Regions from separate parts of the Homo sapiens genome. Here region 2 is linked to region 1. The links come from fine-mapping of genetic effects on gene expression. A gene starts in region 1. The other region holds a variant in brackets. All regions are shown on one strand. Distances are from middle to middle.

Evidence for each region. PIP is the estimated chance that this variant, and not a neighbour inherited with it, causes the effect. A credible set is the group of variants that fine-mapping cannot tell apart.
Region 2: its variant is the best candidate, but not a certain one, in a credible set for the expression of CDKL5 in spinal cord (GTEx, PIP 0.52).

Annotation. Positions count from the first base shown.
Region 1 is chrX:18,422,349-18,427,728 of GRCh38, forward strand. It overlaps CDKL5 (cyclin dependent kinase like 5), which reads left to right and starts at 3,260. Exons shown (of 18, transcript NM_001323289.2): 1 at 3,260-3,347. RefSeq lists an enhancer at 2,881-3,175 and a silencer at 3,511-3,580.
Region 2 is chrX:18,785,063-18,790,442 of GRCh38, forward strand. PPEF1 (protein phosphatase with EF-hand domain 1) reads left to right here. Exons shown (of 16, transcript NM_001377996.1): 10 at 4,059-4,211. Among named protein-coding and RNA genes, the nearest start is that of PPEF1, 80 kb to the left of the region's middle. The variant G/C (reference allele first, on the strand shown) is at 3,004.

The sequences.
Region 1 (5,380 bases):
GTTTATTGATTATTGAGACCCGTAATGAGTAGCACTCATAGGTTCTGACATCTGTAGTGGGATGCGTCTCTGGCATCTAATAGAAAGTCTGACTCAAACTGTCTGAAATGCAAGGAAAGGGCAGAGTTTGTTTAATGAAACAACTCAGTGACGTCATCAAGAACCCAGTTAAAAATTTTTTTTTCTATTTTTTGATTCTGCCTTATTTAGTGTGTAGGCTTTGACCTAGGGCTGGTTTTCCTCTTAGTCACGAAATGACTGTCAGTGGCAACAAGCGTACTTGCTTCCTTGTTCATCCAGCAGGGTAGACAGGGAAAACCTCTTTCAAACCATCAAATGTTAAATTCTTTCCTTCAGTGTAATTAGGCCACACATTGATTGACTGAGACTCTGGGTAGTGTGGAGCGGGTGGATGCCTGAACAGAGTTGGGGTTCTATTAGAAGGGCAAAAAAGCAAATCGATGCTGGGGAGGTTCTCAAGCTGTTTCTTCATCTGGAAAATGGTGAGAATTTCGCAGAGAATTGAGAGGATTAGAGATAATGTGTCAGATTTAGCAAATAAAAATCGAAGATGCTCAGTTAAAATTGAATTTGAGATAAACAGCAAATAATATTTTAGTCTAAGTATGCTCACCTCTTTCTACAAACACTACAAATTTATACATTAATTTGGTTCTTAAGCTTTTCTCCCAGATCCTGATTGCATTACAAGGTCTAGACCTAGAAGGGCATTTCGTAATTTTTTTGGCAATGGTTAGAACCTTATTTAGTTTTCTAGCCTTGTTCCACATGTATCCAGGATAAAAATACACATTTATACTAAAAATTATTCGTTGTTTATCTGAAATTCAAATTTAACGGGGCATCTTGTATTTTATCTGGCAACCCTAAATCTATGTGAAGTTCTTGGCACAGAGCAGGTATCCATTCACTGGCTAGTATTAGTGTTCTTTCTACATAAGTGCTCAGTTAAATGGCAGCATGGTACTTTTTTTTTTGGAGACAGAGTCTTACTCTAGCCCAGGCTGGAGTGCAGTGGTACCATCTCGGTTCACTGCAACCTTGACCTCCTGGGTTCAAGCAATTCTCCTGCCTCAGCCTCCTGAGTAGGTGGGATTACAGGTGCACGCCACCACTCCCGGCTAATTTTTTTCTATTTTTAGTAGAGATGGGGTTTCACCATGTTGGCCAGGCTGGTCTCGAACTTCTGACCTCAGGTGATCCACCTGCCTTGGCCTCCCAAAGTGCTGGGATTACAGGCGTGAGCCACTGCTCCCGGCGCATGGTACTTTTTAAACTTTTACTAACTTTCTAGAAAGGTTAGTTTTTGACCAAAAGACGAATTAACTAAACTGCAAGTGACTGCAAGAAATCCTTTACCACTACTTAAAACCAGATCAAAGCAAATGTCCCTAAGCAGAAGGTCATATTTGTGTATATGGGATGGCACATTATAAGGCATCTAATATTACTACTTAATACTAAATTGGACCTATATTAACAGATGTTCAGTTATTGTTTTTTCTCCATCTTCTCAATCTATACGGATAATTAATTTGTTACTTCCGGTTCACCAGGTCTAAATAAAATTTTAAAAAATTATTCATTTGAGTCAAAGGTAATGCTGCTGAAATTCCTAGTACAAAGGCTCTGATATACAGGGATGAAAATGGAGTGATTGCCCCAGGAGTTCTGGATCCACGTGGGTGAAGCTAGAGGTCACAGCACTGTTACTTTGCATCTGGAGGAGGCAGGAGACTCTGCGAAGCCCTCTGTTGTTGCCTCTGACTCCATTTTCCCTCTTTGCTAATTCATTGCTCCTACCTGTAAAATTTTCTAATATGCTTCCACTTTCATTTCCTCATCAAATATTCACCGTTATGAAAAAGAAAATCCTATTGGCTTGGTATCAAGTGGCCAAACTGAGCATGCTGCTACATATTGTTACCAGATTCACTACAGGAATAGATTAAGTGGATTTTATCCCAAATATCTATTTCCTATTACAGTACTGCATCTTTCTAATTTGGTGGCAGCTATGACCTCATACACTGCCTATTTTCCGTGCTTTTCCTAACCAGAAGAGACCCTATTTTTCTCCTTTGCTTGTTAAAGCGAAAATAATTATGCAGCTTTCCATAGATTTGTCCCCAATGTCTTTTTAAAAAAATTTTTTTTCTTTATTTTCTAAAAGTAGCATTGGAAATGTTATCTCCTTCAATTTCATCACCTCTTCATCCTCCTTGGAAACCCGATCCATGGTGGGTATTAAGATCTTTACATTTGTACTGGTTGGGCGATGACTTCATTGCTTTCAAGCCAGCTGGGGGATCTTGTGTGGCAGAGCATCGGACCGAAGCGGAGGTGTGGGTCGTTGCTGCTGCTGCTGCTGCTACTGCTGCAACAGCTCTTTGCACGCGCCCAGCTGCTGTGTAAGGAATCCTCAGGCTGCTAGGTCTTTGCGCCTAACTCACCCAAGGGACCGCAAGCTGCTGGATGAGTGTACGTGTGAGTGTGTGTTGTGTGTGTGCATATGTGCGTGTGTGTGTGCACACGCAGCGGCAACAGTTGGGCAGCAGCAGCAATGGACTTCGATATCATTTTTACCAACAACAGAGATAAACCATCCTCCATCCTGTATTTCTCAGCTCCCGCCCCGAGTATGTTCTCCCCCTCTTCTCCGACTTCCCCCACCCCAGCCCCCGGCACGGGTCCCTCCGGAGGGAGGGCAGGGTAGCTGCGCTGCAGGCAGGATTCCCTCTTTTTTCCGCAGTGACAGGCGGATTCCGGGGCCTCCTCGCCACCTCCTACCCCCGCAGCCACCCCTTTCTCAGTCACGATCTCCCCACCCCACCACCGTCGACCCTCTCCCTGCTTCCCCGCTCTACCCCCCGGCGTCGACTCCAGGCTCGGGCCCCGCCCCTCTCAGCCTCTCCAGCCCAGGTTGCTAGGGCTTGGCGGGGCAACCAAACCTGGCGTGCCAGGAGGCGCGGCGCGCGCGTGAGCGCGCAGGCGAGCTTGTATAAGGAACCAGCGTTCTTCGGCTTCGGAGACTCGAGCACGAGCGGCGCGAGCCCGAACCCCAGGACAAGCGCTTCCTCCTCATTGGCTCCTACCAGAAGGGGGCGGGGTAAAGGCGGGATCGGGCAAAACCTGAGGTGCTTTCCCATTGGTCCGAACGGGCCGGCTGGGGCGGGGCAGTTAGCAAAATAGGCTGCGCGTTCGCTTCTGCTAGAGGGCGGGGCCGGAGGTTTCGATTAGTTGTCTCTGCCGCTGGGGAAGGTAAAGCGGCGACGGCGTCCTCAGGAGCTGTGGGGTCCCCTGCTAGAAGTGGGGGACTCGGCGGGGTGAGTAGTCGCGCCGCCACCCGCCCGCCAAGCCTTCTTACCCTTACATCGGCCCCGCGTCCACCCAGCTTCTCCTGAGAGTGGAGACCCACCCAGTCCCCCCGGGCGGACAAGAGAAGGGGCGGGGGCGCCGGTTCCCCCGGAACGGGGCGACGCGGTGAGGACGTCCCAGCCCGGAGTAGCCCCTCCTCAGCGCTCCCCTGCGCCTCTGGAAGGGCTTCCCCCGAGGGGCTGGGGCTGTCTTTTGGGGTGTGGGGAGGCGAAAGGGTGTGAAAGAGGGGCGGCGGGTCGAGCCCGCCCCGCGGGGTTCCCCTCAGCGGCGGGTCTGCGGCGTCCCCGCCCCGCCGCTCCCGCGGCACGAGCTCCCCGGGGCTTGCGGCGAGGTAAGCCCCTTCCCGCCGGCGCCGAGGAGGGGCCTGCGCGCCCCAGCCCCCTGCCCGAGTTCGGAGGGAGCCCGAGACTCGCCAGGGGCCGTCAGTCGCGGCCCGGGCCCTTCTGACCTTGGCTGCCCGCGAGGGTGGGCTAGCGACCGGGCGCCGGCCCCGCGGCTCCGCAACCTCCCCCGGACAAGTTTCAGGCGATGCTGTGAAGTTCACGACTGGCATAGTGCGGGGAAGAAGAATGGCCCCTTCTCAGACCTTCATACCTTTTGGACCCTCATAGAAATCGGATTCTGGGATTTGGAACCGTCTCCCAGAACGAACAGGTCCTCCTTGCATTGACACGTTTTGTGCCCACGTTGGGGAAAAAAATAACCTGAACATATTTCAGTGTAAAGGCAGATCTTCCTTGAGGGTTTTGTTTTTCGCTTCATTTGAGTGTTAAAGAACAGATGCCTGAATAAGAAAAGCCTGACCTTAGTATCTCTACAGTGAGATTAGACGGGTGCTGTGATATTTAAGTAGTTGCAGATCAGTATTCTGTTAGCACAATCTATTTTAATTGGCTGGAATTTAAGCTGATTTTAGAAAGTATTGTTGACACCGAATGATTTCTTTCTGTGCATCTGAATTAGGTTTGTTTGAACGTAATGGTTATATAGTTAATGTAAAAGATTACACAAATTAATTTGTCTGAGAGCGTTTGTCAGAAACAGGAGACAGAGATGTGTATAGAACAGGATTATCGTTTTAGGTAACATCTGCTGGAACATTTCCAGCTTGTTTCTTTCTTGCTGTAGGGTTACAAAAAAGACATCTTCACCGAGGCTATTCGGAATTACATGTGAGTGACACTTAGATGTAAATTTGTTTTTATTTCCTTCAAGTGTTTTAAAATGTTTTGTTCACAAAATGTGAAGAGGCTATATTTACTTGTTCCTGTATGTTAGTGTTGAAGGTGATAGTATGATCTTATGATTAACAATCCAATTAGGGTCCATTAATAATAGATTTTTAAAAAAGGCGTGCTGCTTTTCGAGAATATGATAGGTTGAGTACCTAGCAAGACTTCTAATTTCTTTTTATTAAAAGTACTATTTTAGGATTGAGAATTTTTGGCGTTGACACTGAAACCAGGAATAAGGAAGCCTGCAGCAGTCTTAGCAGTTTGACACCACCAGTAGGTGTTTCTGTTGACAAATGCAGAGAAGAGAACATTTGGGAAGGAAATCTTTTTTTCGGGGCGGGGGTTGGGGGGGAGGTGAGGGTGGTTGAGGGGGGAAGGAGCCAGAAGAGAGAAGCTAATGCTGCCAGCACTGTATGCTGAGCATTTCACAAGTACAAGGAAACCTAATTAGGGAAAAATTCCGTTTGGCTCTATTAAATAATAGAACTACAAAAGAGGCATACTAAATAAAGTTAACCATTCCAAGAGTGTTAGATATTATCTGCCATTTCAGAGTAGTTGGGGGTTCCTCAATTGGAGAGGGTATCAAATCTCTTTGAATTGTCTTGCCTTTTTAACATAGTCAATGCAGCGATTAATTTGCTAGATGTATATATATCAAACAGTTGAGTATTCCAGTTTTGTTGTTTAGCATATTTCCTAAGCCTAAATTTTTTAAAATCAAAATCCGATATATTTTTTTTAAA
Region 2 (5,380 bases), 360 kb after region 1:
TAGAGCTGGAATTTAATCTGATAGAGACAGAAATGTGACCCCAGTGGCACCTTGACTTCTTGGACCCTTTATACACATGTGAATGAGAATGTCGTTGCTGGTATCCTCCCATCTTTTTAATTAAAGTTTAATAAGTCTGACCTCCAGACCAGATGAGATCCCCTTTTGTATACTGTCAAGCCCTTTGTACATATCTTTCATCACAGTTACCGAATTTAAGTAAGAAATTGTGGTACTGTTTGTTTACTATCTTCCTCTGTTTTTCTAGTCCATTGATAAAACCCCAGCACCTGGGATGTAGTAAGTACTTAATAGTCACTGACTATCTCTTGAGGGATTTAAGATCAAAGCAGGGTAAACCTAAGACAAAACTGAATAGAAAGTTTTTTACAGCCCTCTCCTGATTCTGTGGTGATTTTACATACCACCCTTCCCCACCTCACCAACTGATGATGATGCTTCCTGGCTTACACCTGTTGTCCTATTGTAATTATTAATAGCACCTCCTTTTACTCTAAAAAAAAAAAATCCCAGTTGCAGCCAGGCATGGTAGCTCACCCCTGTAATTCCAGCACTTTGGGAGGTTGAGGTGGGCAGATCACTTGGGACCAGGAGTTTGAGACCAGTCTGGTCAACATAGCAAGATGTCATCTCTACAAAAAAGAAAAAATTAGCCAGGTGTGGTGGTGCACACCTGTGGTCCCAGCTACTTGGGAGGCTGAAGCATGAGGATTGCTGGAACCCAGGAGTTTGAGATTGCAGTGAGCTATGATCGCACCACTGCACTCCAGCCTGCATGACAGAGAGAGACCTTGTCTCAAACACAACAAAACCCAGTTGCAATAAAACTTAAGCCCACTCTAAGTTTAAGGTACCTTTCTCATTATATCAGTGAGTAATCAAGCCAATAAGACATTTTGATCAAGATATAATAGTCATTATTAACATAATGAGTGGATTAGATTCTAACCAAGAGCACAAGGGAACATGATGTCTTTGTCAGTCAAATATTGGTGAACACAGGGCATGAATGCCACATTCCATCACCACCTGCCCTATGACTACAGTGCTAATCAGTCATGGCAGCCTCTTCCAATTGACCAGATTGAACACTTTTGCTTTCCTGAGGTTAGCCTGAGCAGCCAGCTCTATCGAGGGCTTTTTGAGATATTGAGAAGATGCCTCTGGGATGTCCCTCACTAGCTCTGTGGAGATCCCAAGTTGAGGGCCACCTTAACATAGTAAAGACTGTGAGGCTCTAAGATTAGACAGACAGAACTAGGTTAACATCCTGCCTCTGCCCCTTCCTGGGTGACTGGGCAACATACTGAGGTTTTCTAATCCTTGGTTTCCACACGTATAAACTGAAGATAAAAATACCTACCATATTGGATTTTTGGGAGGATTAAATGTAATTACCTATATGAAGAAAATGGTGGCCAGGCGCAGTGGCTCACGCCTGTAATCCTAGCACTTTTGGGAGGCTGAGGTGGGCGGATCACTTGAGGGTAGGAATTCAAGACCAGCCTGGCCAAAAAGGTGAAACCCTGTCCTTACTAAAATACAAAAAAATAGCTGGGCATGGTGGTGCACACCTGTAATCCCAGCTACTTGGGAGGCTGAGGCAGGAGGATCACTTGAACCCAGGAGGCAGAGGCTGCAGTGAGCCAAGATCAAGCCACTGCACTCCAGCCTGGGTGACAGTGAAACACTATCTCAAAAAAAAAAAAAAAAAAAAGAAAAGAAAAGAAAATGGCATATACTACTAAACATATAGCTTTCTCCTCCAGTTCTCTCTTCTTTTTTCCTTATACTTGGTTCTGAGGTTTGTGTTTCAGTCACCAATACAGACCCTGGGGAGAGTTTGTGGGCCAGCCATTTTCTCAGGATACCTAAAGTTTCACCCCCTTCAGGGATAACTGTTCTACCTGCTCTTTAGACTGGCTTTAAAGATAGAAATTCAACTTGTATATTGTTTGTGTCTTCTACCCTTCCTTGAGTGAGGTTGAACTGGTAACACATACTTGTTGTATTAAATATCATTGAACTGTAGTGAAAATGATAGGTTCAACCATTTGGAACTCTATCAGATGAGACATAAAAGTAGATTGTTCCAGTCCAGTTTTATAATCCCCACTTTCCCATCCCATAGGACCCTCCAACCCTCTGTGGCAGGAGGGACCATACTTCCTGGTTTACACCTGCGGTCGTAATGGTATCATTGTTAACAGGGGTTGGGAAGGGTTGGGGGAATTTGATGACAACCTCTATTCTAGGTTCATTTAAGGTATTTTGTAAGGTGGGCAGGTTGAGGGGGGTCAATGCAGAGGGATTAAAGAATGAAGGAAGATTTTCTAAAACTAAGATTCTGGTTTATTATTTGTCAAACTCCCCAGCAAGGCATTTGCAGAAAGATGGCTACTAGACTCCCTGGGGGAAAATGGTCGTGTAGTGCCTTAGGGAGAGCTGGGGCAAAGTATCCTGATCCCAAATGGCCTTGAAAACTTCAGAGCCACACATACTTAAGAGACCATGTGGCCTTGCTCAATGAGCTCATCAGAAATGAGTTGTGTACAGCTGGGCACGGTGGCTCATGCCTATAGTCCCAGTACATTGGGAGGCCGAAGTGAGACGATCACTTGAGACCAGAAGTTCGAGACCAGCCTGGGTAACATAGCAAGACCCCATCTTTACAAAAAAAAAAAAAAAGAAAGAAAGAAAAAGGGAAAAAGAAGTGAGTTGTGTGGACCCAAGTCCAGAGGGTCCTCCCAGAATATTCTGCTCTGCCCCTAATGGGAACATTTGCTGGCAGGAGACAGGGCAGGTAGGCTGTGAACTAGCTAGCAATAGCTGAGCTTGAATTTCTACCTAGCTCAATGAGACAGGACCTCAGAATAAGATTCAATTTCATTTTTGAAAAATAAAGGTAAGATTTCCTACACACTCTAGTTTGTAAAAGAAACTAAGTGCTTGGCCGGGTGCAGTGGCTCACGCCTGTAATCC[G/C]AGCACTTTGGGAGGCCAAGGCGGGCGGATCACGAGGTCAGGAGATCAAGACCATCCTGGCTAACACGGTGACACCCCGTCTCTTCTAAAAAATAGAAAAAATTAGCCGGGCGTGGTGGCGGGCGCCTGTAGTCAGTGCTGAGGCAGGAGAATGGCGTGAACCCGGGAGGCGGAGCTTGCAGTGAGCCGAGATCGCGCCACTGCACTCCAGCCTGGGGGACAGAGCAAGACTCTGTCTCAAAAAAAAAAAAAAAAAAAAAAAGGAAACTTAAGTGCCTACCACAGAGAATTTGTCTATCACTGAACCACGGCCACCAGTATAACAGAAGTATTGTTTAATATTGTTTTGTTTAAAGACATGGTGCTACAAAGAAACAAGTATAAAATTACAGTCTCTGCTTGTGTAAGGGAACAAGAGGGATTCTAGTAATTGATGCCCTATCAGAAAGACGTTTTGTTTTCCAAAGAAACGCAGCAGTTTTGTTGCCAAGATTAGAGAACATCGTCAATGGCTGGCAGAGTCAGGCTGAGAACCACAATGCATTTAGGTTGGAAGGGCTTCTGAAGTTTTCAACCTATGTCCCCTTTAAGAACTTTCTTGGACACAGATGTACCTTTTCTCTTTTCTTCTGGAAAGCATAACAAAATGCACAGCAGCCACTCTATTAAGAGGTGTTTCTGAACTCCTGAAGATCCTATGGCTAGATAAAGGCTCAATAAGGAGACTCGTTGCCCCTACCTTGGTATCTTCCATTTTCTGTGTGGATGCCACAGAATGTGTTTAACACCTATAGAGAAACTCCAGTGAAACACAGAAACTCTTTCTTTATAGGCAATGTCTGTAATTGGAAAATGTACCAACAATGTAACAGACCCACTTTACAGACATCAGTGGATGAGTGAGATATAGGAGGTGGACGAGATGCAAAAAGTGACCGTGTGTTTTTCATTGGGTTGTGGCACCACAACATAGAAAGAATCCCACCTGGGACTGAAGTCTCTGTATGTGGCAGAATAAGCAGAGGGTTGGACTAAAGCATGAATTTGTTTTATAGATGAAATCTGTGCTGATACCACCAACGGAAACAAACAGAGACCATGACACTGACTCGAAGCACAATAAAGTAGGTGTGACTTTTAATGCACATGGAAGAATCAAAACAAATGGATCTCCTACTGAACACTTAACAGAGCATGAATGGGAACAGGTAGGTAATCAGGGTGTTCACTGCAGTGGCAACAATGACACTAGCGTGCATGTTGTCCCTTACAATATATAGATAAAAAGTGACTTTACCTTTACGAGGAGACCACATGATTCTCTTGGAATTCATCACTATATTTTTAACAGCTTTATTGAGATATAATTCACATACCATGTAACTCACCCATTTAAAGTGTATAATTCAATGGTTTTTGGTATATTCACAGTGTTGTACAACTAGCACCACAATCTAATTTTAGAACGTTTTCATCATCTGAAAAAGAAACTACATACCTATTAGCATCATTCCCCATTCCCTTCTGTAGCCACCCTGTGCCACCTAACAGCCTTAGGCAACCATCAATCTACTATCTGTCTTTACAGATTTGCCTATTCTGAACATGTTGTAGAAATGGACACATATGTGATGTTTTGTGTCTGGCTTCTTTCACTCAGCACAATGTTCTGGAGGCTCATCCATGTTGTAGCATGTATCAGTACTGAACATCTATTTGTTGCTGAATAATATTCCATTATATGGATATACACATTGTATTTATTCATTCATAAGCTGATGGACGTTTGGGTTGTTTCCACTTTTTGGCTACTATGAATAATCCTTCTATGAGCCATCACATACAAGTTTTTCTGTGCATGTATGTTTTTATTTCTCTTAAGTGTGTACCTAGGAGTGGAACTGCTGAGTCATAAACTAATTCTAAAAAAGTTTAACATTTTAAGAAAGTCCCAAACTGTTTTCCCAAGTGGCTGCACCATTTTACATTTCCAGTAGCAATGGATGAACGTTCCAATTTCTCCACATCCTCTCTAACACTTGTTATTGTCTATCATTTTGATTATAGCCATCCCAGAGGGCATGAGATGGAATCTCATTGTGGTTTTGATTTGCATTTCCCTAATGACTAATGATGTCAAGCATCTTTTCATGTGTTTATTGGATATTTGTAGATCTTCTTTGGAGAATTGTCTATTCAGATCCTTTGCCCATCTTAAAAACTGAGTTATTTATCTTTTTATTATTGCATTGTAGGAGGTTTTTTGAATATATTCTAAATACAAATCCTTTATCAGGTATATTATTTGCAAATACCCTCTCCCATTCTGTGGGTTGTCTTTTCCCCTTTCTTGATGGTGTCCTTTGCAGTACAGCAG